Regions from separate parts of the Homo sapiens genome. Here regions 1 and 2 are each linked to region 3. Evidence: fine-mapped expression QTL. A gene starts in region 3. Each other region holds a variant in brackets. All regions are shown on one strand. Distances are from middle to middle. Region 1 overlaps LTBP2 (latent transforming growth factor beta binding protein 2). Region 2 holds the start of MIR4709 (microRNA 4709). Region 3 holds the start of SYNDIG1L (synapse differentiation inducing 1 like).

Evidence for each region.
Region 1: its variant is fine-mapped to the expression of SYNDIG1L in tibial artery (GTEx, PIP above 0.99). The same link has a PIP of 0.9 or more in subcutaneous fat, sun-exposed skin and transverse colon.
Region 2: its variant is fine-mapped to the expression of SYNDIG1L in tibial artery (GTEx, PIP above 0.99). The same link has a PIP of 0.9 or more in aorta, esophagus muscle, lung and unexposed skin.

What each region holds. Positions count from the first base shown.
Region 1 is chr14:74,518,504-74,526,503 of GRCh38, reverse strand. LTBP2 (latent transforming growth factor beta binding protein 2) reads left to right here. Exons shown (of 36, transcript NM_000428.3): 14 at 390-429; 15 at 1,279-1,380; 16 at 3,586-3,714; 17 at 4,465-4,593. It overlaps LOC124903347 (a long non-coding RNA gene), which reads right to left. Exons shown (of 3, transcript XR_007064266.1): 3 at 7,186-7,900. Among named protein-coding and RNA genes, the nearest start is that of ISCA2, 29 kb to the right of the region's middle. RefSeq lists enhancers at 1,777-2,716, 3,178-4,056. The variant G/C (reference allele first, on the strand shown) is at 3,781.
Region 2 is chr14:74,475,001-74,483,268 of GRCh38, reverse strand. It overlaps NPC2 (NPC intracellular cholesterol transporter 2), which reads left to right. Exons shown (of 5, transcript NM_006432.5): 4 at 2,490-2,567; 5 at 2,981-3,329. The coding sequence ends at 2,995. It overlaps MIR4709 (microRNA 4709), which reads left to right and starts at 3,065; the gene lies at 3,065-3,136. It also overlaps a transcript of SYNDIG1L not described here and the pseudogene RAP1AP. The variant C/G (reference allele first, on the strand shown) is at 3,290.
Region 3 is chr14:74,422,921-74,431,188 of GRCh38, reverse strand. SYNDIG1L (synapse differentiation inducing 1 like) reads left to right here and starts at 4,979. Exons shown (of 4, transcript NM_001105579.2): 1 at 4,979-5,277.

The DNA.
Region 1 (8,000 bases), 95 kb before region 3:
CTTCCCCACTCTGGCCCTGTGGCTCCAGGCACTCTAGTGAACCTCCAGAGCTTCTGTTACTGTGTTGAGATGCTAGGGTTATAGCTGACACCAAATTGCTGATTTTCTACCATGGACCCAACACTGAGCTGGCATAGTATGTATATCAGCTCATTTAATCATTTCAACCTCCCATCATAAGATAGTTGAGAAGGTTAATGAAGTGAGTGTGTGTAAAGTGCCTGGCAGAATGCCCAGCATAGAGTAAGAACTCATCAATACCTGGAATGAATGAAAACATGAATGAGCTCCTGGTAGGAAGCCCGGAGGTGGGGGTCAGTGTGGTGGAAGGTGGCACATCACAGGTACGGCAGAGGAGCCAAAAGTGACCTTCTCCTGTTTCTGTGCAGGTCACGACCAGTGTCACTCATGCACCTGCCTGGGTCACAGGTGAGTCCCTCTTCCTGGCGGCTCCTAGGCAAAAGAGAAGGGAGGGAAAGAGCCCTTAATCAGGAGTGGAGTTACTATGTGTGAGCTGGTTCACGCTCACACACACATCAGAGGAGGGTGAGAAGGACGTGGCCTGTGAGTGCTGTTTCTGGGAGCTCTCTATACACCTAAGGTGCTGTGAAGTCAGCGAGAGACCCCATGACGCTTCACAGATAGTTTTCTAGCCACAGAACTCTTTGCAAATTTCATGGCACCACTTAGCACATAAATCAGAACAAAGAGACAGCACTAGCTGAAACAGGTGTTTGGCTGGGTCGCTAGACTCTTTCCCCCAAGAGGTCTTGTCCTGAAACCACTACTTGCCTGTCACTGGTGTTGGGTTCAGACATTGGAAGGCTGAGCTCATGCTTCTTGTAAAACGGTAGAAGACACTGATGCCTGTCTTGCAGACTCTCAAAGCAAATAAGATGTTGGTATTTGTGGCAGAGCTCTGTAAGCTGTGAAATGCTTTGTAAGCAGAAGTGAAAGAATGTTGAAGTGGGAATTAGGAAACCCAGGTGTCAGCTGTGCCTCCGACAAGCTGACTGGCCTTGGACAAGTGACCATTTCTGCAAGCCTCAGTCTCCTGGCCCTGACATGGAGGATTAGACTGGATGTGCTCCAACGCCTGTTAGAGCTCTCAGATTCTCTAAGTGGGGCCAGATCAACTTTCAGGAGACTGGAAGGCATGGGAGTGACCCACCCCAGGCTTCACCCTTCGTTCTTGGGAGTCTGAGCACCAGGGAAGAGGGAAGGGCCATGGCCAGCCAAGGGGCCACAACCCCACCTCTTCCCCTCTCTCCTCCACAGGGAATGCCACAACCCCACCAATGCCTGAACAGGGGATTGCAGAGATACAGGAAGAACAAGTGACCCCCTCCACTGATGTGCTGGTGACCCTGAGCACCCCAGGTAGCTGCAGCCAGACCTTTGGGGCTCCCTGCACCCTGCCCTGTGAGCTGTGTCTGTCCAGAGCCAACTCCAGGGCAGGGGCATGAATGGAATGCCCCCTCACCTTTCCAACTAGGTAAAGTCCCCAGCAGGCTCCCAGCTGGGCTGTGCACCCCTGGCCTCATCTTACAAAGAACACAGGGTCCCTCTTGTGAAAACAAGAGCCCTGCCTGGAGCACTGCCCAAGCCCAGAAGGGGGAAGAGAAGGGACACCATGGGAGAAGGAAGCCAGGGGTCTTCCAGGAGAATCTGGGGGTCCCTCTCAAGGAAGGGGAGCATGGGGAGTGAGGGCCACTGGGATCCTGGCTCTTCCAGGCCACTCCCCTGAGTCAGCAGAGTGCCTGGCAGCGAGCAGCTGCCTGCCCACGGGGAGGGCTGATTTTCGGGAAGGAACATGGTTCTATTTCTCAAGGTTGTTTAACCAAGCCTGCATTCCTCTCCCTCTGGTCAGCTACAGTGATGGGGGCGAGGGGCGGGTGTGGGGGCGATCCTGGCAAATCCACCTTGCTCTGGAATGTGCCCTCCTTAAAGGCTCATTGTCTGGGGACTTGGTGCAGGAGAAGCAAGGCGGGTGTTGTTGCCGCTGCTCCCTGTACACGTGTGTGCCCGCTCCTGGGGCTCCTGCTCTCTTAACCTTACGACTGGGTCCAGAGACCCAGTCACCTTGTGTTGGGGGTGAGGGTGGTCAGGGGGTTCTGGATTTCCTTCAGCAAAGGGAAAGCCCCTGCGCCTGGTGGAACAGTCCAGAGAGTGGGGAGTAGGGGTCCAGCCTTCCCAGGCACACCCCACTGACCTCTCCTGGGACCTCTCTCCTCTGGGCTCAAAGCGCTGCTCCAGGGAGCATCCCCTTCTGGCCTCTGCTCAGCAGGCAGAGTGTGCAGAGGAGTGCTGAATTTCTGACAAGGAAAATGGACCTGGAGGAAGGGATGGGAAGCAGGGGGCAGGGGGCAGGGGGCAGGCCAAGCTCAGCAGCAGCTCTTGGCATGTGGATGAGTGTCCCCACCGCAACCCCAGCCTCAGCCTTTTGCCCTATCCCCCTTCTCCTCTGCCATTCTGTAACCTCACCCCTCTGGGCAGACATTTAGGACCCAGCTGAGGGCCCCCACAACCCCCAAGGCTGACACAAACTTAGAGCCAGGCCCGGGGAGAGGGTAGCCTTGGGTGCACATTCAATTCAGTACAATCTGGCAGACTGTTAAGCCCCACTGTATACCCACGTACAGACCATTCCCCAACCCATTCCCTTGGGTCTTCGGCTTCTCCCAAGCTATGGGGGCGGGGCAGGGACCCCTGAGCATGTGGGCTTCAGGCAAAGACTTCAGGGTGGACACAAATGCAGAAGCATCATTCATTCATTTATCCATTTGGCATGTTCTAAGTGCCAGGTACCTTTCTAGTATTAGGGATACCGTTCAGAAAGCTAAAGTCTCTGCTGTCTACACAGCCTCAACCCCGAGTCCCAGTGAGTCTGCCTCCAAACTATTTCTCAATTCTGTACCTGTCTCCCCACTTCTCACCCCATCACCACCACCCAAGGCAGACCCTCATTTAAATTATTTCAACAGGTTTTAAGGACCCACTATACCTCCCTTACCAGTTCATCCATCATCTCGTTGCCTGAGTGGCCTTTCTAGGACTGCTCTGACCCACCCCCACCTTTCACAAAATCCTTGTTACAGGCCAGTCTCAATGTGGCTTTCAAGGCTCTGCTCAGCTGACCCCAGTCCACCCCTCCCATTTTCCCCTGGCAGTTTTCCCCAAGCACCTTACTCACCAGGTCTGTCTGTCTGTCCAGGGAAAACTGGGCAGGAGTTGCAGGGAGGGATGGCGCTGGGCACTGGGTAGGAGTCAGGCCCATTTTCGGGGTGGGGCTAGGATGGAGGGGTTTTGCTGGAAATTTGCTGGAAATATGGGTTATCCATTAGATCTCGGTGAGGGGGATGCCCTACTATGACCTCCATCCTGGGTAGGGCTCGGGGTGCTGGGCAGAGGTCCCCTAGGGTCTTATGCAAGGCCAAGCTGTGCATGGGTATGGGAGGGAGGGCCTGGCTAAGGTTGGCCTTCTGAGGCCCCTAGACCCTGGCCACTGACTGTCCCCACCCCGCTCCACTGCCTTTGTCCAGCACCCACCCTGCCATAACCTCTGTTTTGCTCTGTCTCCCACAGGCATTGACAGATGCGCTGCTGGAGCCACCAACGTCTGTGGCCCTGGAACCTGCGTGAACCTCCCCGATGGATACAGATGTGTCTGCAGCCCTGGCTACCAGCTGCACCCCAGCCAGGCCTACTGCACAGGTATTCACTTGGGTGCCCTGGGCTTACTTGGCGGCTGGGGTAGATGGGAGCAGGGGCTAAGAGGCC[G/C]AGTTGAGAGTCCAGGAAGAAGCAGAAGGTCCAAGCAGTGCTGGGTGGTTGATGAGTTTAGGAGGAGCACAGTCCCTGTGGACTAAGCTAACTTTAACCTTCAGGGGAAGACCAGTCTCGGTGAGCCCCATCCGATGAGTCTCCAGGACTCCAGGAGCACAGAAGCCAGCCCATTGCATGCATCCTGGCCTGTGCCTGGCAGCCCTCTTCTCTGAGATCAGCCCACCCCTCAAACTGGCCATTTTGCTGCCTGGAGAGCACACCCAGGACTGCCCCAGTTGCAAATGTCTCCACCAGGGTCATCCGTAGGGGGAGGTCTGAGGCTAAGATAAATCATCAAGTGTGGACCTCATTCCTCCTCCCCCCAATATTTTCAAATAAGGGAGAAATATCCATTGTGGTTTCAAAGGAGAAAGGAATCATGAGGCTACTGGGGGAAGGAGTCGAGGGGCAGATAGGAGGGGCTGGCAGTCACGCCAGGCTTCTGGTGCCTGAGTGGGCCCACTGGGCTGACTTTATGGCTTCCAGCCTTAGAGATTTTCAGCCTCCTCCACTCCCTCACCCCTTCCTTGCCACACAGCACCATCCCCTGCCCAGCCCCTAGTGTGGGCAGGTTGCTGGTAGGTGCCCAAAGAACGGCACCGCTGGCCCCCCTGACCTCCCTCCCTGCCTTCTTCTGGTCAGATGACAACGAGTGTCTGAGGGACCCCTGCAAGGGAAAAGGGCGCTGCATCAACCGCGTGGGGTCCTACTCCTGCTTCTGCTACCCTGGCTACACTCTGGCCACCTCAGGGGCGACACAGGAGTGTCAAGGTAAGCCAAGCCCGCCCTTGCCCTTGGCCAGGCCCCACAGTCTTGAGGGGGTGGAAGAGGAACCAGGGGTTCACACCCCCAAACACCGTGCCGCAGAATGGGGAGTGGGCAGCTGAAGGAGTGAAGGAGGAGAGACCAGAACTCCAGCCTGGATCTGGGAGGAGGCTGATTCTATGCCAGTGGCAAGGAGGGGTAGAAATCCAAAAACCAGCAATCTCTGCAAAGGCCCTAAGGAATTGTGGGTGGAACCAAGAGTGTCACAGGGTCAGGAGACATGGCTGGAGATGAGGATTATGCAGCAGGCCCCCAAACTCCGAGTGACAAGGAGCTGGTTTCATGTCAGGGAAGGAGGGAGACCCATAAGGATGCCAGGCTGGGACTACTGGCAGACCTGGGAGTAGGTGTGCCTTTGAACGAGGAGCACGGCTCCTCAGCAGCTTGGAGGCACTTGTAGGGCTTTGCACTTCCCTGGGAAGATGTGATGTGGCCCACTGCCAGGGGACCCTTGATAAATACGCTCCCAACGCAAACCCTTTAATGATGCAAAACACCCCACATACATTTTTTTCCACATACATTTTTATGATTAAGTTCACAAATAATATAATGCAGCACTTTCTAAGCAACACCTTAAGATTCATAATCCAGTTGTAAATCCTTCACCTCAAGAGGGACCCTGCCTGTGCTTGGGGCTCACATTGCTGGTTCTGGCCAGACCCCCAGGGAGGCCAGGGAAGCTGTGTACCCTCCTGCTGCCAGGATCCCCTCGGGTTCCAATCCCCCAAGGGTCCAGTTTACAGAAACCAAAGCCATCCAGGTCCAATCACTTGATTATGGAGGGAAGGGAAGTAGAAGGGGCAGACCTCCTAACTTAACGGAGGAGCGGGAGAATCACGGGTAGTGTTCATTATGCTCTCATGCGTTGGCACCACCTATGTGCCAGGCACTGTGCCAAGCTCTGAGGATGCTGAGATGAGTGAGGTGTGAATGGTGACACTGTAGGATCCAGATGAGGAGCAAGTTGTTCTGTATGAGATTATTCGGGTACTCGAGATGGAGCAGAATAAAAATAGCTACCATTCATTCATTCATTCATTCATTCATTCATTTATGATGGAGTCTCGCTCTGTCACCCAGGCTGGAGTGCAGTGGCACAATCTTGGCTCACTGTAACCTCTGCCTCCTGGGTTCACGCCATTCTCCTGCCTCAGCCTCCTGAGTAGCTGGGACTACAGGCGCCTGCCACCACGCTCGGCTAATTTTTGTATTTTTAGTAGAGACAGGGTTTTACCATATTGGCCAGGCTGGTCTCGAACTCCTGATCTTGTGATCCACCCGCCTCGGCCTCCCAAAGTGCTGGGATTACAGGTGTGAGCCACCACACCTGACCAAGAATAGCTACCATTTAATGAGCACTTAATATATGCTGGCAATGTCCCAAGCATTTTGTTATATGAAGCTCATCATCCCAACTCCATGTTATGGAAATCCTTAGCCCCATTTAATAGTTTAGCAAACTGAGGCTCAGAGGTGAATTGAAATACCCAGGGGCCTCAAACCTAGTGGTGACAGAGCTAGAAACAGAATCAAATCACTCTAGCTCCAAAGCATGGTTTGCTTCCAAAGACACACTCCCTTACACACAGGGTGTTGGAGCATGAATAGGAATGGAGCGTGAATAGGAATTGAGGGAGCAGAGGGTATTCCAGGTAGAGAGAAGCATCTTTGCAGAGACCTGAATAGTGAACGTTCCCTGGCATGCTCTGGGAATAATCATGAATGCAGTATGACTGGAGCAGGGCTACCTGGAGGAAGAGGCCAGTGTGGGAAATGTCTTGAGTGCCAGGCTGAAGCGCTTGGACACTGTCTCACAGGCATGGGTAGCCAGTAGAAGTCTGTGAGCAGAACAGTGGTGACTGGGTCAGCTGACTTCCGGGGAGCTGACTTAAGGGGCAGGGCTCAGAACAGGCTGGAGGAGCCAGGAGAGAGGCTGAGGGAAGGAGGCTTCTCTGGGCTCCAATCGTCTAGGTGGGTGTTGTGGGCCAGAGGCACTGCTCTTTGCAGACCCAGCCTGGGGAGCTGGCCTGGGATAAGCAGCAGCTGCTGCAGAGAATGGTGTCACCAGGACTGGTGCAGACACAAGTTTCTGCCACCGTGCCAGCCTGGGTGTCCAAGATGTCTCTGCCAGCCCCAGCAGCTGGGGAACGGGGATGGGGTTCAAGGCTGGCTCTAAGTACTTCTCCCAGTGGGGCTTGGGTACCACTGGAAGAGGCCTTGTCCAGAATAACACCCACTTTCTGAAGCTTCCCAGTCTCATAAAGTAATATCTCATTACCTCAATGATTTGATATTTATATCTATTTATAGATTATTTAAATAATGTATATATAATTAATATAAATCATAATTTATATTATCAATAAGATAAATTATTTACATATTAAATATCTAAGTAAATGTTTACCAATAAATGTAAGCATCTCTTCATACATTAGCCTGTGGGTTTCCTCATCTGTAAACTGCTGGCTCCCATTTTTGCTCAGTTTTCCAATGGTGGTTGCTGCTTTTTCCTGGGGCTCTTTAGGAGTCCGTTATATATTCTAGATTCTTGGCCGGGTTTAGAAATTGCAATGCTCCCATTTTGTCCTCTATCCTTTAAGCTTATCTACATTTCTTGGAACAGAAATCCTTAATTTTGATTTACTGAAATTCACCATTTTGCCTTATTTTTGTGTGTTTTGGGGGCTTTGTTTAAGAAATCCTTCCATATCCTGAAGTCATAAAGATATTCTCCTATACCTTAATTGAGTTCTAGTTTTCCCTTTTATGGTATGCTTTGATTCATCTGGAGTCCATCTTCATATGGCTGTTAAGAACCTGGTCTTTCTCTATTCACGTCTCCATTTTTCTCCATGGAGTGAGGGAGTTTTCCAGCACCATCTATCAGACAGTCGTCCTGACCTCAGGGGATAATGAGTTCTTCATCCAGTTCCCACATACGGCTCTGTCTATGAGTTCCCTTCTCTCTTCCATTGGGGTTAGAGCTTCTCACAGTGAACACCAGTTATTCCAGAATTGCCTGAAGAGCTATAACAGCGTGGGTTCCTGGGCCCACCAGTACAGCAGGATCAGAATCTCTGGCTGTGGGCCTAGGAGTGTGCATTTCCCACCTTCTGGCAGAGACTTTGCTGTGCACTGGAGTTTTATGAAGTATTGCTCAAGTGAAGACACTGTCCTTAAACAAATGGTTATTATTCAATTCCTTCAGTAAGCACTTATTGGGGTTCTGTGCTGGGCACTGGAGATGCTGAGATAATAAGGCATGTTCCCATTAGTCAGGGAGAAGCAAGTAAATGAACAGGTACACTGAAAGCTGGGCCCTCAGGGGACGCTGGGTTGGAGATAAG
Region 2 (8,268 bases), 52 kb before region 3:
GTCCTTAACCAGTAAAATCTGTTCCCTCAGGTCCTGTAAGTCAAACGTGGACTGAATATACTAGTGCAAAACCTTGGCCATTCTTCATATACAAATCCCTCATTGCTGTAAATTGCCCTGTGCCTGCAGTATCTAGGATTTTAAGCATACACTGTTGGCAGTTGACTTCAACTTGCTTTCTGTAGGAATCTTCTATCGTTGGGTCATATTTTTCAACAAAAATTCCCTGAACAAACTGAACCATCAGAGCAGACTGCCCAACACCTCCTGAACCAAGGACCACTAGCTCACCCGTGATGTGGTCTGTTTAAATACTGATGATTCCCCCAGTCTGGCACCTCCTCCACCTCCTCCTCCCTCCTCCCTCCTCCCTCCTCCCTCCTCCCAGCTGCGGCTCCTGCTTCGGCTCTGCACAGCAACGGCTGATGCCATTTTTATATACAATATTTCACTTGGATCTCATGACCATCCTATGTAGAGGTGATATTATCTCTATTTTACAGCTGAAGAAATTTGAGCCTCTGAAGTTATGCAATATGAACAGAGTCCACTCCACTAAGAAGCAGTGGAGCCCAGGTTTTGAGCTGGGTCTTATAACTCCAAAGCCTGTGCAATGTTAAAAGATTTTAGCCAGGTACCAAATAATTAAAGATCCAAGTTGTCTTAACATTGTCATCAGAAAATCCTGGTTTCTCCATTAATCTCTTAACAAAACAAGAGAGCAGTAGTTTGTTAGCTCCATGGCAGAGAGGTAGCTTTTTCCAGCCTTCTTTCTGCCCTCCAATCCCCACCTTCACCTCTGACCCATCCCTGCTGCACCTACCTCTTTTTCTACCAAGCACTCATAAGGTAGATCCTGCTGCAGTGGACCTGTATTAAAGATATGTATCTTGATAAGAATGGAGGAAATAGAGGGATGGCCTTTTTCCATGAAGAAAAAGAGCCGCATTTCTTGAAATCAAGTAGAACTCAGGAGCAATATCTGGCCATTTATTTTCTAGGAAAGGTAAGTAATTAAAGAACATTCTAAAGAGACTCAAATATAGGATGTCTGTGCTTAAGGGCTGTTGGAGACCTTAGAGGTCAGGGACAGATTAGTAGATGAATATCCACATAACCATGGGCATGTCTGAACCTCAGTTACGTATGCAGTGACTAGTCAGAGCCTGATACGTAGTAGGTACTTAATGTATGGTAGTTATTGTCTGTTAAATGAGTTACATTTAATTTGAAAAATAGCTCAAACTGCTTAAGCACTAAATGAAGCAGTAGTTAATGTATACTAGTCTGGAAAAACTCACAAGGCAAGTTTCAAGAACCTGAATATCAGTGCCACTCACATGTTCCATTGTGAAGAAACATTAGAGTACAAAAGAGAGGTAGTAACTAGTGACAAGTAAGCTAATGTCCACATAAGAAAGGACCTGCAGAGTGTCAGTGAGTTATCAAGAATTGGAAGGGACCACTCACGTGATATGAGTGTAACAAGTCAAGGCAGGGATTTCTGATGAAGTACATTATTAGAAAGCAGTTTAAGGGCGTTAACTGAAAGTATATTGCTACAAAAGGTTGTCATCCTTGAAATTATTCATACAGCTACAGACTTCTCTAGGCCATCTTTTGTGCTTTGACATTTCCATTTCTAGCTAACAAGAACGTTTCCTTATACCTAAGAATCTAAATTTTTTTTACTCTCTGCTCTTCATGGTTACATTGGGAAAAAGCTGGATCAGATTGCCAAATACATGAGAAATTGCTTAAATGTGAAATTATTCATGTAAGCCTTCATGTGTTAGTCCATTTGCCTTGTTGTAAAGGAATACCTAAGACTGGGTAACTTGAAAAGAGGTTTGATCAGCTCACGGTTCAGCAAGCTGTACCTGAAGCATAGTGCCACCACCTGCTTCTGGTGAGGCTTCAGGAAGCTTACTGTTAGGACAGAAGGCAAAGGGGAGCCAGCGTGTCACATGGCCAGCACTAAAGCAAGAAAGAGAAGGGGGAGGCCCCAGACTCTTTTAAACAGCCAGATCTCATGTGAAGTCAGTGAGAACTCACTCATCACCAAGGGGACGGTGCTAAGCCGTTCATGAGGGATCTTCCTCCATGATCCAATACTTCCCACCAGGCCCACCTCCAACATTGGAGGTCACATGTCAACATGAAATTTCAAAGGGACAAATAACCAAACCGTATCACTTCATTTATATGCCATTGATCTAAGAGAGAAGAGAATGCTTTAGAAATTACATTTGATAAATTAACCAAGTTAGTATGTGGTGCTGCTAGCATCAAATCACAAGTATAACTTTGTTCACTCTCTTAAGGCTGTAAGCTGTGCCCACATGCTAAGCAGCCCTCATGATTTAAGAAAAAAAGTATGAGGAGTTAGGAAGTTTGCTACTGTACATCTAGGATTCATAGTTAAACCAATTATGGATAGAAGTCAGGTCCTATTTTCATTTTTCTCAATTATTTTTCTCTTTCTCCAGATAAAACTGGTGGTGGAGTGGCAACTTCAGGATGACAAAAACCAAAGTCTCTTCTGCTGGGAAATCCCAGTACAGATCGTAAGTCTATCTGGGGGTGAGAGGGCATGGGTGGAGGGAAGAAAGTGGAGGAGAAATCAGACTGAAACTAAATCAGTGCCATAAGATAAAAGGAATTTCAAGACTGCTGTTTTATGCCTCTCAACCTCTAAAAGCATCTGAGACCCTATTTCCTGAGAGCTCAGAACTGTTGCCTTTGTAATATCCTTTGTTAAAAAAAAAAAAGGTTGAAGGAAAGAAGAGAGAGTGAGACTGTAGAGATTGATTTAACTGTCTTCATTGGTTTTTTTCTGTCGGAGTAAGGAAGGTCCAGCCAGACAGGACCTGAAGGAGGTTGCTTAGGAATGTCTGATAACTTGCCCTAGGGTTATTGCCCTGACAGTGGAGGAAAGGTTCCAAACCACTTCCACTGAGCTGGGACATTACATCCACAGGTTTCTCATCTCTAAGTGCCTCATTGAGTTCGGTGCATCTGGCCAATGAGTCTGCTGAGACTCTTGACAGCACCTCCAGCTCTGCTGCTTCAACAACAGTGACTTGCTCTCCAATGGTATCCAGTGATTCGTTGAAGAGGAGGTGCTCTGTAGCAGAAACTGAGCTCCGGGTGGCTGGTTCTCAGTGGTTGTCTCATGTCTCTTTTTCTGTCTTAGGTGGTTTCATTAAATGCAGCACTTGGTTAGCAGATGTTTAATTTTTTTTTTAACAACATTAACTTGTGGCCTCTTTCTACACCTGGAAATTTA[C/G]TCTTGAATAAATAAAAACTCGTTTGTCTTGTCTTCTGCATGTGGGCTGTGGTCTTCTCCTGCTCCTTTCAGGGTACATTCTGCTAGAACCATGGAAGGCAGGCCCCCAGTTCCGTGGTCCCAGAGTGCACTGAAGACATGACTTTTTCAGAAACTCTTTTTCCTCCTTTTTGTCCAGTAAGACCATATCTATTTTATATAAAATGGCCTTGTTTTGCTTTATTTGACACAATCTTATACCACCAAGCATGCTCGAAAGAAGCAGTGAAAGTAAAAATCACCTAGTTGAATAATAACGCCTGAAAGGTTGAAGGAACTGAATTTGGTGGGGAGGGCAGGTAGGGGTTAGGGATTACAGGTTAGGATGAGGCATGGTGATCTTTTGGGAACACTGCTGTGAAGAAAGCCTAGAAGCTTAAAAATGAAATGTGAAGTTGTAGCAAGTAATGGCTAAATTAATTAAATCTTGGAGTTTCCTATCTTAAAGTACAAGTATAATCATGGGCATATATTTTGCCACCTATTTTGAGTCAGTATACTAGCAGTCAGCTCTTAGGTGGTACAGGGATTACAACCCCATTCACAATTGAGTTGAATAACATGGACCTTAGGTCATCCATTGTTAGGGCAAAAGGAAGGAACATTCATACAAAGTGCTTGTGAGCAAGTGATTGATTTGATCCAGTTCTTTTCATCCCACTAATTTCACTAGACCCTTGGATTTCTTTGGTCTGTGAGTTTCCCAGGAAAACCACCAGGGGACAGTGATGGATCAGGAATACAGTTATCAACAGCCAAGCTTTCCTAGTTAATGCTAGGAGCCAGTCAACCAGTGTACTTTTTACCTAAGATCTTTTGTGTATCCTGCCACATTGAGTCTAGAGTGACAGTCCACCTTGTCTCCCATACCAGACTCTAGATGTATCAGAATTGTGTGAATTCCTGAGGCTGTTAACTGTTGTGCGGGTCTCTGGCTTCGGACTGCCTATGGTTGAATCCTGGCACCAACAATTAACAGGACTACCAGTGTGATCTTGAAATCACTTCATCTCTCTGTGTGTCAGTCTCCTTATCTGTTAAATAGGACTAATAATAATAGGGCTGTGAAGACTAAATGAGATGAGGCATGTAAAACACTTAGAATGACCCTGGCTATAGTATATACTCTCTAAATGTTAGCTGTCACTCTGGGAGACAGACATTCTTCTTTGTCTACAAATAGCAGGAAAATTAGAAGGTTCAATCTGAGATTTGATGATGTCTCCTCAGAAGGATGAGGCTATCCTCTGTGCACAAGAACTTTCTGAAAGGCCTGGAAAAGCTCAATTCTCATGTGTCCACTGTCTCCCTATTCCCAGAAGATTTCTCATGCCATTTAGCTCCTTTGAAGTTAACAGCTACCCACCCTGCATACTCCTCTGCCCTTGTGTTAAAAGAAGACAGGACTCACAATACCATGCAAAATGAGTACTTGCCTCTAGCTAGGAACAGTGCCTACTTCAGGGAGAATTGATTTTGATACAGCTGACTAGTTTGAGTGTTAAACTATTTTGGAAATAATTTACATATCTAAGTTCTAAAATATATTTTTCTTTCCTCCACTTATTCTTCAAATTTGAAACAATGTTTTAATACTGTATATCTTTCATTGTTTATAACTTGCATTCTTTGTGAAAATTTGTTCTTAGGGACAAAAAAATTCTTAATCTTTTTATGTGTAAAGCAGGAACAGACAGATAATACATAAACAGATACATATTATATCTGCGGTATTAAAATTTGGTGGGGTGGTCGATTAGGATTAAAAGGTCCATAAAAGCTCCTGTAAGGAGTGATAATGAAAAGGGTGGGGAAGCACTAAAGACAAAGAGTATAAGTAGATATTTCAGAAATCGAAATTAAAAAGTATTTCGGCTAGTTTATACCCTTCCATCAGAGCAAAAGGGGAACACAACAGCTTGTGACTGTTTGCCAGCCATCGCGGGGCTACATGAAGCCTGCAGCCGTGAGCTAGGTAGGGCTCCCGTGGGGGGATTAGTTTGAAAGGTCGTCTTCTACAGACAGTTCACAGACGCCCCCGTGAGTCATTAAAACATTGAGAAGCACTGAATCTTAGGTATATCAAAAAGGTCATCCTCTTTCCAATGACCGTCTCATGCTTTTCTAGTCCACGGAGCAGGTTTTGGAGGCTCAGCTCTTACATGAATTCCAGGACAGATAAATCCCAGATTCTAATTGTTGAAATAATAATGAGGGGCACCCCTGCTTATAGAATAAAGGGAACCCAACACCTCATATCTCCAGTTTGGGAAAAGGTTAAATATGAAGACTAGTATTCAGTCAAATCTTCATACTAATAAAAAGCAACAAGCATGGAGTAATTTTAAATCCTGCATATTTGGTTTTTAAATCTTAGTTGACTTTTTTTAAAAGGAACAGAGTGATCTTTTTTTTTTTTAACACAAAGTCTTTCAGAAAAGAAACAGGGTGATCTTGATTATGCTTTGGAAAGGTTGATAAAAACAGCTTGTTCTCTGAGAACACCCTCCAGACATAGGAAGAGTGGCTTGAAATAGGTGAGGTCAACTAAGAGAAAATGATCTGGGATCAGCCATTCACTTCAGATAATCCAAAAAGCAATGGTTAAATGGGTTGGTACAAGGACAGGGTTACAGTATATAAGAAAAGCATTAGCACAGAAAAAGGAGTCGTGTAAGAAAGTCGCCAAGGTGAAAGTCACGTTAAACAAGTGTTTTTCCCAAGGAAGAGACAGAACAGGAAATAGAGGTTGGGGTATGCCTTATTTAAAGGCCTGGAACACTCAGGCGAGGGTGTGTGTGTGTGTGTGTGTGTGTGTGTGTTGGGAATGGGGCTGGGGGGAGACAGGGTTGTGTGTGTGTGTGTGTGTGTGTGTGTGTGTGTGTGTGTGTGTGTGTGTGTTGGGAATGGGGCTGGGGGGAGACAGGGTTGAGTGACCCAAAGTAGAAAGTGGCTCTGGATCTCCACAGATGTTGCCTGAAAGTCTTTGAAGGATTTGAGTCATTTTGGGTGGTTGTGTCTTTTTCTCTGAAGAGAATTCCTCAGCCTATCCCTAGATTCTAAACTGAATCCGATTCACTTACAGCTGTCAGTTGACTAGCAACTAAATGGTCTGGGTGTTGGTTGCCATGGAAACAGCTAAAAGGCCCATTGCTATGGGAACCTACCAGGCTCTCCAAACCAGGGGTTTGGTTCCTAAAAAGGGGTGGAGGGGAGGGTGGAGACCAGGAGATGGCCTGCATAGGTGGCTCAAGGGTCCTGGAAGAGGGTGGGCAATGTGGGTGAGTGGATCCGGCCAGCTCCTCTCGACTGGGGCAGAAGAACAGTGACCTCTTCTACTTTCTGCAGATGTTCCCATGCCTGTTCTCTGCTCACTGCCCAATGCTAGCCACAGAGCACAGGTGTTTGCAGTTGCAAATGGAGACTAAGAGCCTGAGATTCTGGAGCAGACGTGGCATGTCAGTGTGGCTCCCCTCACCTGCAGGGGCTTGGAGAAGGACGGCTCCCTTCTAGCAGGCCGTCCTCCACAAATCATATGTCCCAGATAAGCAGCCAGCAGGCAGAAAGATCAGCTTAGCTCTGACTGCCAGTGGGTAAGGCCAAGAAGGAGCCTGGCAGACAAATGGATGGCTGCTGGCCTTGAACATGGCAGAGCTGCTGGGTGTGCCAGATCAAAAAGCAGAGAGCAGGCCAGCAGCAGCAGACTGTTCTCAGCGCTGGAGAAATGCATTGCTCTGCCCACTACACCCTCAACCATCCATATGCCTCTGCCACAAAGGGGGATACTGCAAATGGATCAACATAGGAAAGATGAGGTTTGATGGAGATTCTCAGTGTACACACACAATGCTTGTAAGATTCTTTTCTGTTTTGCAATCAAAGTAACTCTCACATTAGTGTTTAGTGGTAAGATGATTTTTTTACTAAAACAAAGAGAAAACATCCCAGAAGCTCTTCCATTAACCACTGTTAATGTGTAATGTACAAATTGAAGGGATTGGACTAATCACTAAAGCCTCTGTCAGGACTAACAGCTTATGATGCATTGAGACGCTGAAAGGAAGTTGAAGAACCACTGGCAAATGGACACAGATGAATCGTTTTCTAGTTACTCATATTGTGAGGGCGGGGAAAATCTCTGAACTCCAGAGAGGCTTAGGATGGAGACTAAGGCCAAGACATTTGCTTTAGAGACCATTTCAGATATGTTGGGCCCAGGAGACTTTCACTTGGTTCTGCAGAATTCTGAGATTTGTGATGCTGATTTTTTTTTCTCCTAATCTTGCCTTTTTCCTGCCTGGAATTGTTAGTCTCAGACCCTCCCAGGAGCTTCAGAGTCTAAGAGCCTGGCACCAGAGAAAGAGAGAGAGAGAGATGCCACTAGAACTTGGACTGCTCCACAGGACAGTTGAGCACTTCCCCAGAATCTGTGGGGAGGTTTTCACTTTTGGAAGCAGTAGTTGTTTACAGATTTCTGTAACATTTAAAATGTTAAATACAAGCTGGGTTTATATCTCACCTCCAACTTTTTCCAGCTGCTTGACTTTTGATGAGTTCCTTAACCTCTTAGGGCCTTAATTTCCTCAGCTGTAAAACAGGATGATAAGAATATACCCACCTCAGGTGGTTCTAATGATGACATGAGATGGGGGATGCAAAGTGCTCAGTGCAGTACCTGACGCATAATAAGTAGCTGAGAAAGGTCGTTAGTATTATTATTATCATCCTAGATAAAAAAGGAAGGTTGCAGCCATGGAAACTGCTCAGTGGCCTAGAATCATAGGCATTTGCCATGCATTTGTCTTCCAAATTTAATTCCAGGTGCCTTTCAAGACTGATGGCCTCTCTGATGCCACACTCTGGTTTGCCTTCATTAAGCCAGATTCTAACCCTCTCTTTTTAAGACACTTAACCACATTCTTTTTCATGTATGATTTTTA
Region 3 (8,268 bases):
CCTGGTCTTAGCTCTTTAAAGGGCTCCAATCAGGGATTTGCAGGAGCTTGGGGCCCACTCTGCATTGTCCCAGTTCAGGGTGAAGGCAAAGAAGGCCTCTTTCTGCAACTCCCCCAGCCCCATCACACTGGCTCTGGCTTCAAGGGCAGGAAGAAGGCAGGATTATGCATCAGTTTCATTTTTTTTCTTTTGGCTTGGTATTGATCTCTGACTATTTTTTCCAAGTTGGAAGTTACTTAGCTTCTCTGGTTACTTAGCTTCTAGTTTTCCTCATCTGTAAACTGGGAATTATACATGTTTATAAGAATGAAATGAGATAATGGCAAAGCAGATGCTTCAAAAATTGCTGTGTGTTGAGCAGCAATTGCACCACTGCACTCCAGCCTGGGTGACAGAGTAAGACTCTGTCTCAAAAAAAAAAATTGTAGTGTGCAAGCAAATATAAAGAATGCTAGGCCGGGCATGTTGGCTTACGCCTGCAATCCCAACACTTTGGGAGGCCAAGGCGGGTGGATCAATTGAGGTCAGGAGTTCAAGGCCAGCCTGGCCAACATGGTGAACCCCATCTCTACTAAAAATACAAAAATTAGCTAGGTATGGTAGCACACACCTGTAATCCCAGCTACTTGAGAGGCAGAGGCAGGAGAATCGCTTGAACCTGGGAGGCGGAGGTTGCAGTGAGCCGAGATCATGCCATTGCACTCTAGCCTGGGTGACAGAGTGAGACTCTGTCTCAAAAAAAAAAAAAGAATGCGTATTCTTCCGCTCATTTTCATTTTGTTACCATATCAGGTGAAAGAACCCTGCCATCTGCTTGCCACTGTTGATAAGCCCCACCCTGGCACCCCCAACCTCTCACACATATACGCTCACTCATCCTTGCTCCAGCAAAGTGGGAAAGTGCCAAGAGTGCAGGTTACTCTGCCAGGGTGCAAATGCTCACATGCCCCGAGCAGCCTGCGGATGCCAGAGTTAGTGGTGGAGTTCAGAGCTGTGCAGTCTGCGGTGGCTGGATTCCTTCACTTTATGCTCTGGTTCTACCTCTCAAATTGGCAGTAGCTCACCCACTCTGCTCCCCAGGCTTGAGTGAGTGTGTGCCTGGCAGGAAAGCAGGGAATCGGGCGGGACCGGTGCTAAGAACTCTCCTCATCTTCTTTCCTGGGCATGAATCAGTGTGTTTCTAAAGAAATGGCTTCTTCCGTTTTGCAGTCTCCTATGGAAAAAAGAAGTGAGCAGCTGTGGTAATGTACTTCCAAAGCCCCCCAAATAAGAAGTTTAAAAGACAGACAACTCTAGACTTCATTGCTGGGGGTCTGCCTCAAACCAAAGGGCCTGACTCAGAAGCAGTAAGGGTTTCCAGGGTTCTCTCTAGCATTAAGGGTCAAGAATTTGTTCCCACTATTTGCTTACAGCCACATATGCACCCTTCCTTGGAACTGTGTCATCCTGGAGCCATATCCATGAGTGCAGGATTTGGCTGATGGGCAGTCCAAAGGCCCACCTCTCCTGTCCTCTGCCAGACAATCCCTCCTTTAGCCAGGGATTTGTGGGTCACAGCCATATGGCCTTGGCCGTGAGCTCAACTCCGAGGTAGAGGGCTCACTAGGCCAGGGGTGGGGCTCACCTGTCCTCTTAAGGGAAGCATCTCTTCCAGTGTGTGGCCTATTGAAGTAGTAGTGGGGCAGGCCTCTCTATGCTTGGTGCTGATTTACATTCCCTAGAGAACACTGTGAGGCAATCAACCCCTTGTAAAAAGAACCAAGAGTTTATGCATGAAAAAGCTTATGAAGGGAAGTCCCCAGGTGGGAAGAGATTAGCAGCCGGAGCTGACTCCAACTAAAACAGAACCCTCTAGGGTTGGATTTCACTTAAGGAATGTCAGAGATGTGGGAGGAGAAGAGGACACGAGGGCATCCCCTCCCAGGTTTTCAGCCAGTGCCTACTCTGTCCCTTACCTGTGGTCCTCACCCTAGTCCCAGCGAGGATGCTTGCTACCTCCAGGTGAGCTTCCAGGGCTGCTCTGCCCCAGTCAGCTCTCCTGGCCCAAGTCTGGGCCTTTCCCTTTTCCATTCAGATAATCAAGACAAGATGGGAGGAGCCTTTTTAGCTGAAGAAAATTTTCTAGGAACCAAAGGGAAAATAAAATTTTAAAAAAAGAGAGAGTGCCTAGAAACTGAGGGGCTATGGTGCTAAGCAGCATTACCCAAGGTAAGCAGTTTGCTCCCCTCCTGATGCCCTCTGGTAAATAGCATTAGCTTCCCAGCAGCAGGAGCCCCCAGTGTTACCCTTCTGGACTTGCTCCCTTCCCCACAACCAATCTCTCCTCTCTGTTTTCACCCAGAAGTGTCTTAAATCCGTTCCCTGCTCCCGTCCTGTTGACTCTGCCTTGCTCAAGTTCTCACCACCTCTTTCCTGGGCTCTGGTGGAGCTTCCTCATCAGTCCTCCAGGCTCATCTGTTCACTCCGGCCTTCCTACCAACAATCCCCTCCTCCCATGGCCTGCCTGGTGACTGTCTCATCCTTTAATAAAACTCAGACCTTCTCCAGGAAGCCTCCTGGGACTTCCCCAGGCAGGGTGAGTTGTTTTCTTCTCTGGCACTCTTCACTTACTCCATGACAGCATTTATCACAAGGTGTTGGAATTGCTGGTCAACATGTCTATGGACCGCATCCCCTTCATTGCAGCTCCTTCAAAGGCCTGGACAATGGTTTATACTTTCCATTCTTGGTGTCTAACAGAGGGGTTGATTTTCATTACATGGCAGGAAATGCTTGATGGAAAAAGGAAGGGAGGGATAAAGAGAGAATGGAAAAAGAATGGAAACTTTGCATGGTTGTAGATTCTTCAGTCCCTAAGCCACCCCTGTACCTTGTGAGAGGTAAAGGTTAGTTTCCCGGGAAGAAATTCTTATCACTGCATTACCCACTGTTCTCTGTCACAAGCATCATACATTGCTGATTGCACTTATAGTTTCTTCAGAGCTATTGAATTATAAGAAAGCAAAGGCCCAGGAAGATTAGGCGACTGCCTAAGGTCGCACAGCCAATTAATGACAAAGGCGAGACTAGAACCTGGGTCTCCTGGCACCAGGCCAGGGCCCTTGATACAACACCAACAGCCTCTCTTTGAGTTTTCCCTCCAGGCAGCAGCATGTAATTATCAACATTAGTATTTAGAATTTATATGCGGCTTTTGCTTCACTGGCTTTTTTATTATCCTTTCAATTAGTATTTCAGTATGCAGCCCAGGCATGGAGCACAGCCAGGGTGGGGAGGGGAGCAGCAGAGGGAGGCCAAGGCCAAGTAGGTGGCCATGAGCCCCTGTGAGAGGAAGGCCAGAGAAAGCAAAGGTACAGGAGGGTGGCCTGACATCAGAGACAATGTCTTGTGTGTGTGTCTGTGTGTGTCTATGTGTGTCTGTGTTGTGTGTGTGTCTGTATGTCTGTGTTTTGAGGAGGAGGGTGTCTGTGAAGATGAAGTATGGGCCTGAGATGAGTGGTCCAAGACCCTTGCTGGCCTCAGGGGGCTTCTCACTGCATTATCCACTAATGGGGCAGAGACAGGAAGAGCAATAATATATTTAGCACCCAACAAGTTAAACACCAATACCAGCCCTGAGACAGACCCCAGGATAAGGGAGTTCTCTGTCCTGCCTTGAAGGGAAGGAGACCCAAGCCCCATGATGTGGACTTGCTCCTGGCTCCTACTGTGCACTCTAGGAGCTACACCGAACTGTGCCAGATGCCCACATCCTGTGGGAGTGAAGGAGTCCTGGAGTCCACCATGCTATGTGCTATAGCATCCTCAGCTGGATGCTAGGAGACTAGTGGATGCTAGTGGAATCCCACTGCCAGACCCTGGTTCCTTGTGTCTTCCAGCCCCAGCTGCAGCCTGCTCTGTGGTTTACTTTGCAAACCCACACTTACCTTCAGAAAATGAGAATACTCTCTCCTCCTGACCTCCTGGGACTTTGGTGAGACTCAAGACCTTGTGAAGGCGCTCGAAGAATAGGTTCATCCACTGGTAACACTCAAGATAGGGCATCCCCATGCAAAAAAAAAAAAAAAAAAGGAAACGCAGGTGGAGGTGGATAAAGAGCAGCACAGGGTGGAGACAAAGCAGCCAAAAGGCCTGCATTCGGATCTCAGGGCTCTTGCTGGGAAAACTCAGGGGGACGCTCACTCACTGAGTGCCTATTGAGTGCCAATGTGTCACGTATGTCATCTCATTTTGTCCTCATATGACCCCTCACTTTGTCCATGAGGAACCTGAGGCTTTAAGAGGTTAGGTAACTTGCTCGAGGTTATACAGCAAGTGGGACCCTAGGACCAAAACTTAGGTCCATGAGCTTTAAAACCTGTGCCCTTCCCAGCACAGCACTGAATCTCCAAATCACAGGATTTCATCCTTGTGAGCCCAGCGTCCTGGTCTGCAAAATTGGAGGGGGAAGGGGGACAGGGGGAGGGGGGCAGGGGGAGGGGAAGAGGGGAAGAGGGGCACTATATTGCCTAATAGAGTTGTTAAGAAAATTAAATGAGCTTATGTTGATTAAACACATTATCGGGCTTGGTATCTGGTATATAGTAGGTGCTCAATAAATGCTTTCTGTTTGTTTTTCTTTTTAGGGCAGATCAATGTTAAAAACTCAGGGCTGGCTTTGGAGCCTAGGAGCTCCAAAATGCTTCAAGAAGCCCAAGGGCCTCCCATCGCTCTGGGGTGCGCGGGAGGAGGGGAGAGAAGGGCTGGGAAAGAGGGCTCGGCTCCAGGAAGCGGGTACGCGGGTTCCAGCTGCGCGCCCCTCGCTTCGCCGCCTCCTCCGGGCTCCCCCGACTTCCCGCCCCGCCCCGCCCCGGAGCCGGGTCCGGAGTGCCTGGTGGGCTGATTCCGGAGCGTGGAAGGGAGCACGGAGCACGGAAGCGAGAGGGAGGCGGCGGCGGCGGGAGGCGGGAAGGAGGGGGACCCTCCTCGCTGCTCTCCCAAGTCGGCGCGGAGCCGCCTCGGGCCGGGCCGAGGGCTGCGCGGCGGCGGCGGCGGCGGGGCCCGGCCAGGATGCGGGGCTCCCGGGACCGCGCGGGGCGGGGCGGGCGGCGGCGGCGGGCTGCGGGCGGGAGCTGTCCGCGGTGCTGAAGCGGCGGCTGCTCAGGGACGCGGGGACGAGAGCAGGGGAGCCCTCCTGGGAGTTCCACCGCGACCGCGAGGCGGGGGCGCCGTCGCTCACCGGCCCATGCCGAGCCCCCGAGCCCCGCGGAGGAGGCGGGACCGTCCGCGGCGGGACAGGTAAGGGGCGGTCTGGGGGCGCCGCGGGAGCGCAGAGCTAGGCACGGAGCGGGGAGTGAGCTGGGGAGGGCACGGGAGCCCTCTCGGGGCTAGGGGCTCTGACTCCCTGCTTGGCCGCACCTTGCGCTCCGCCAAGGCTTGCACTTCGTCCCTCCCTACCCCTCATCCTGCAGGCTGGGGGTGCTGGGAGGGGGCTGATGAACTGGGGTCAAGACACCATAACCTCACAACATCAGGCCTTGACCCTGACCTCAGGCAGCTCCTAGACATCCTGCCTACTGACGGCAAGAAATACTGATTAGAGCCTCAGACTCCCTGGTACCCCAGTCCCCACCAAGGTTTTGCGACACTAGCAAAATCTGAGCAGGCTTCACTAAGCTCCCCTCTTCTCGCACCCAAACCTGTTCACCCAGGTGACTGAGGTGGCTGTGGTACCCCCTGCTCTGAGATTTCTCTGCCCTGGAAATGGCTCTTGGGCCAAGGGATTGGCTCTTGGGCCAAGGCCCCTTAGGATGGATTAACCCATTTCTTCAGGGAAGGAAGGAGGTCCTGGAAGATACCTCAATTTTTTTTCCTATGACACTCTTGACGCTCACAGAAGCAGGCAGGATTTGCATCACATCTCTTGGCGCATGAGGGCAAAGAGTCAGGGAACCTGGGTCCTGTTTTCTATTATGTGCTGGTGACCCTAGACAGAGCCTCCATTAGGAGTTCTCTCTCTTTCTGGCAAGAGTGCGCTGAATGAGCTCATTCAGGCCTGCAAAGTGCTTCTAGTTCTTCAGAGCAGAGTTCTCTATGACTGGCAGAATGTAGCGATCAAAATAAAACTGCGTGGAGGAAGAATTGGCCTACCCTTGTGGCTGACCACTTCTTTCTACTGCTTTATCCCCACCCTCCAACCCAACACAACTTCCCTACCCCCAGGGGTAGAAAGAGCACTAGAGTAGGAGTTCCTGGCTGGGTGCTGGCATTTACTGGCTTTAGCTAGTTCCCTAAGCTCTTTCAACCTCATCCTCCTCACCCCTGGAGTGGGGATAAGGTCACCGCTCTGCTCACCTCAGGGAACTGCCTTGGGGCCCAATGAAAAACAATGCACCTGATTGGAGGCTTGCCACCTGTACATCTCCATACCAGTGTGCGCTGCTGTCACTGTTCCCAACCCCTAGCCAGGCCTGCTGTCAGTGACCTGATTATTGTCACCCCTACCCCCTCTTCTCCCAGCATGGCCATGTCTCCCTTTGTCCTTGGCCACCGTGGGGTCCCAGAATCAGTGAAGCCAAACTTATAAACCTTAAGGAGAAAAAAGTGTGCCCTCCCTTCTTCTCCTCTTCCATCATCACCTATAGGAGATAATATAAGGTAAGAGTCTGACTCACCGGTTTTTATTTTTTCTCCCTAAGAACCACAGATCTAGGGAAAGAGCTCCCTGAAGGCAGGAATTGTGTTGTTTTCATCTCTTTGTCCCCCTTCATGACCCCCTCCCCAACAGCACCTGGAAGATAGTAAGGACTCGGTAATCGGGTGTAAAATGAGGGAATGAAATGTTAAAGTGTATCAGAATAAAAGCATTTAACTGGGAGTCAGAAGCCCTGTGTTCTGGTCACAGATCCGCCGCTGTCTCAGGCAGGTCCATTCCCCTCTGGGGGTTCATTTTTCTCATCTGTAAAAGAAGAGAGTTGGGCTAGATGAGTTAAGATTTCAAGCCCTGATATTCTGTAGGGCTTTCTGAGGCTGTCCTAAACCCATAAACCCCTCAATTCTGCTTGAATACAGGATGCCGGCTTTATCAACCTGGTTTGACAACAAAGTTAATGACCTTTTAGTAATGAACTGGATTTTATGAATGGAGTGAAAGTGAGCAATAGGAACCAGAAAAAGCCATTTATATTTCTGATGTTTTCTTAAGAACCCCCTCTCTTATTTCTCTGGGAAAGCCATAAGTGTGACTCAGAATGACTGAACTGAGAGGGGCTCCTGCCTCCAAGCCCAGAGGCCAGGAACCACCACCCCATTATCCCTGCCACCACCACCACCACCACCACCACCATCTCTTGTGAGTAACAAAGGGCCAGGGACCCCACCATTGGCCATCTCCTACCAGGGACCCTGCCTGGCTATGATCTCCCTCCTAGGAAGACCAGAGGAGGGGACAAGCAGGAAATATCCATCCCTACAGAGAATTTATATTTGTGTTACGTGTGTGTGTGTGTGTGTGTGTATATATATATCAATCAAAATGAGTTTCTCTGATAATAATTTCCCTCAACTGTGGCAGGTCCAGCCGATGCTCAGAAAAACCTTAGCTAATTGGCATTTCGGTAGAGCTGAGTAAACCATGCCAGTGACCTCGCCGAATTATTCTGTGAGTGCCCAGCCAGGGTGGGGGACCAGTCCCCCCTCCTCACGTCATCGCTTTCTGGCTCCCAGCTGTTGGTGCAGCACTGGCAAGAATCAGCTCTCTGGAGTTAATGGACAGTCACTAACCCTCATAACAAAGTGACGGCAGCAGCAGCAGCAACAGCAAGCTAGTGAGGTGTTTTCTTTTCTGCAAGGCTGGTCTGCAGAGGAGCTGGCCTGCTACTGGGGTGAGGACAATACACTAGCCTTCCTTCTGCAGCTGTTTGGGTGGACACCCCACTCCCAGAGCTGTCAGGGTGCAGGGCATCTCTGGTCACCCAGGCAGATGACATCTGGCTCCTCTCCTGACCGGGGAAAACTACCCATTGGCTGCTTCCTGTGTTCCCCTCTTGTTCCCTCCTTGCTGAGGCTTTTATTCTGGGCCCTTCTACAAGGCCTCAAAGGGAAGAAGGGAGTCAACCCTGGCATATGGCACATGATTGGGTGATCTTGGGGGCGGGGGGGCTGCTGAGAAAGAGGAAGAATAAATGCAACATGGTCATTAAGAAATTGTGTGGCCAGGTGCAGTGGCTCACGTCTGTAATCCCAGCACTTTAGGAGGCTGAGGCGGGTGGATCACTTGAGGTCAGGAGT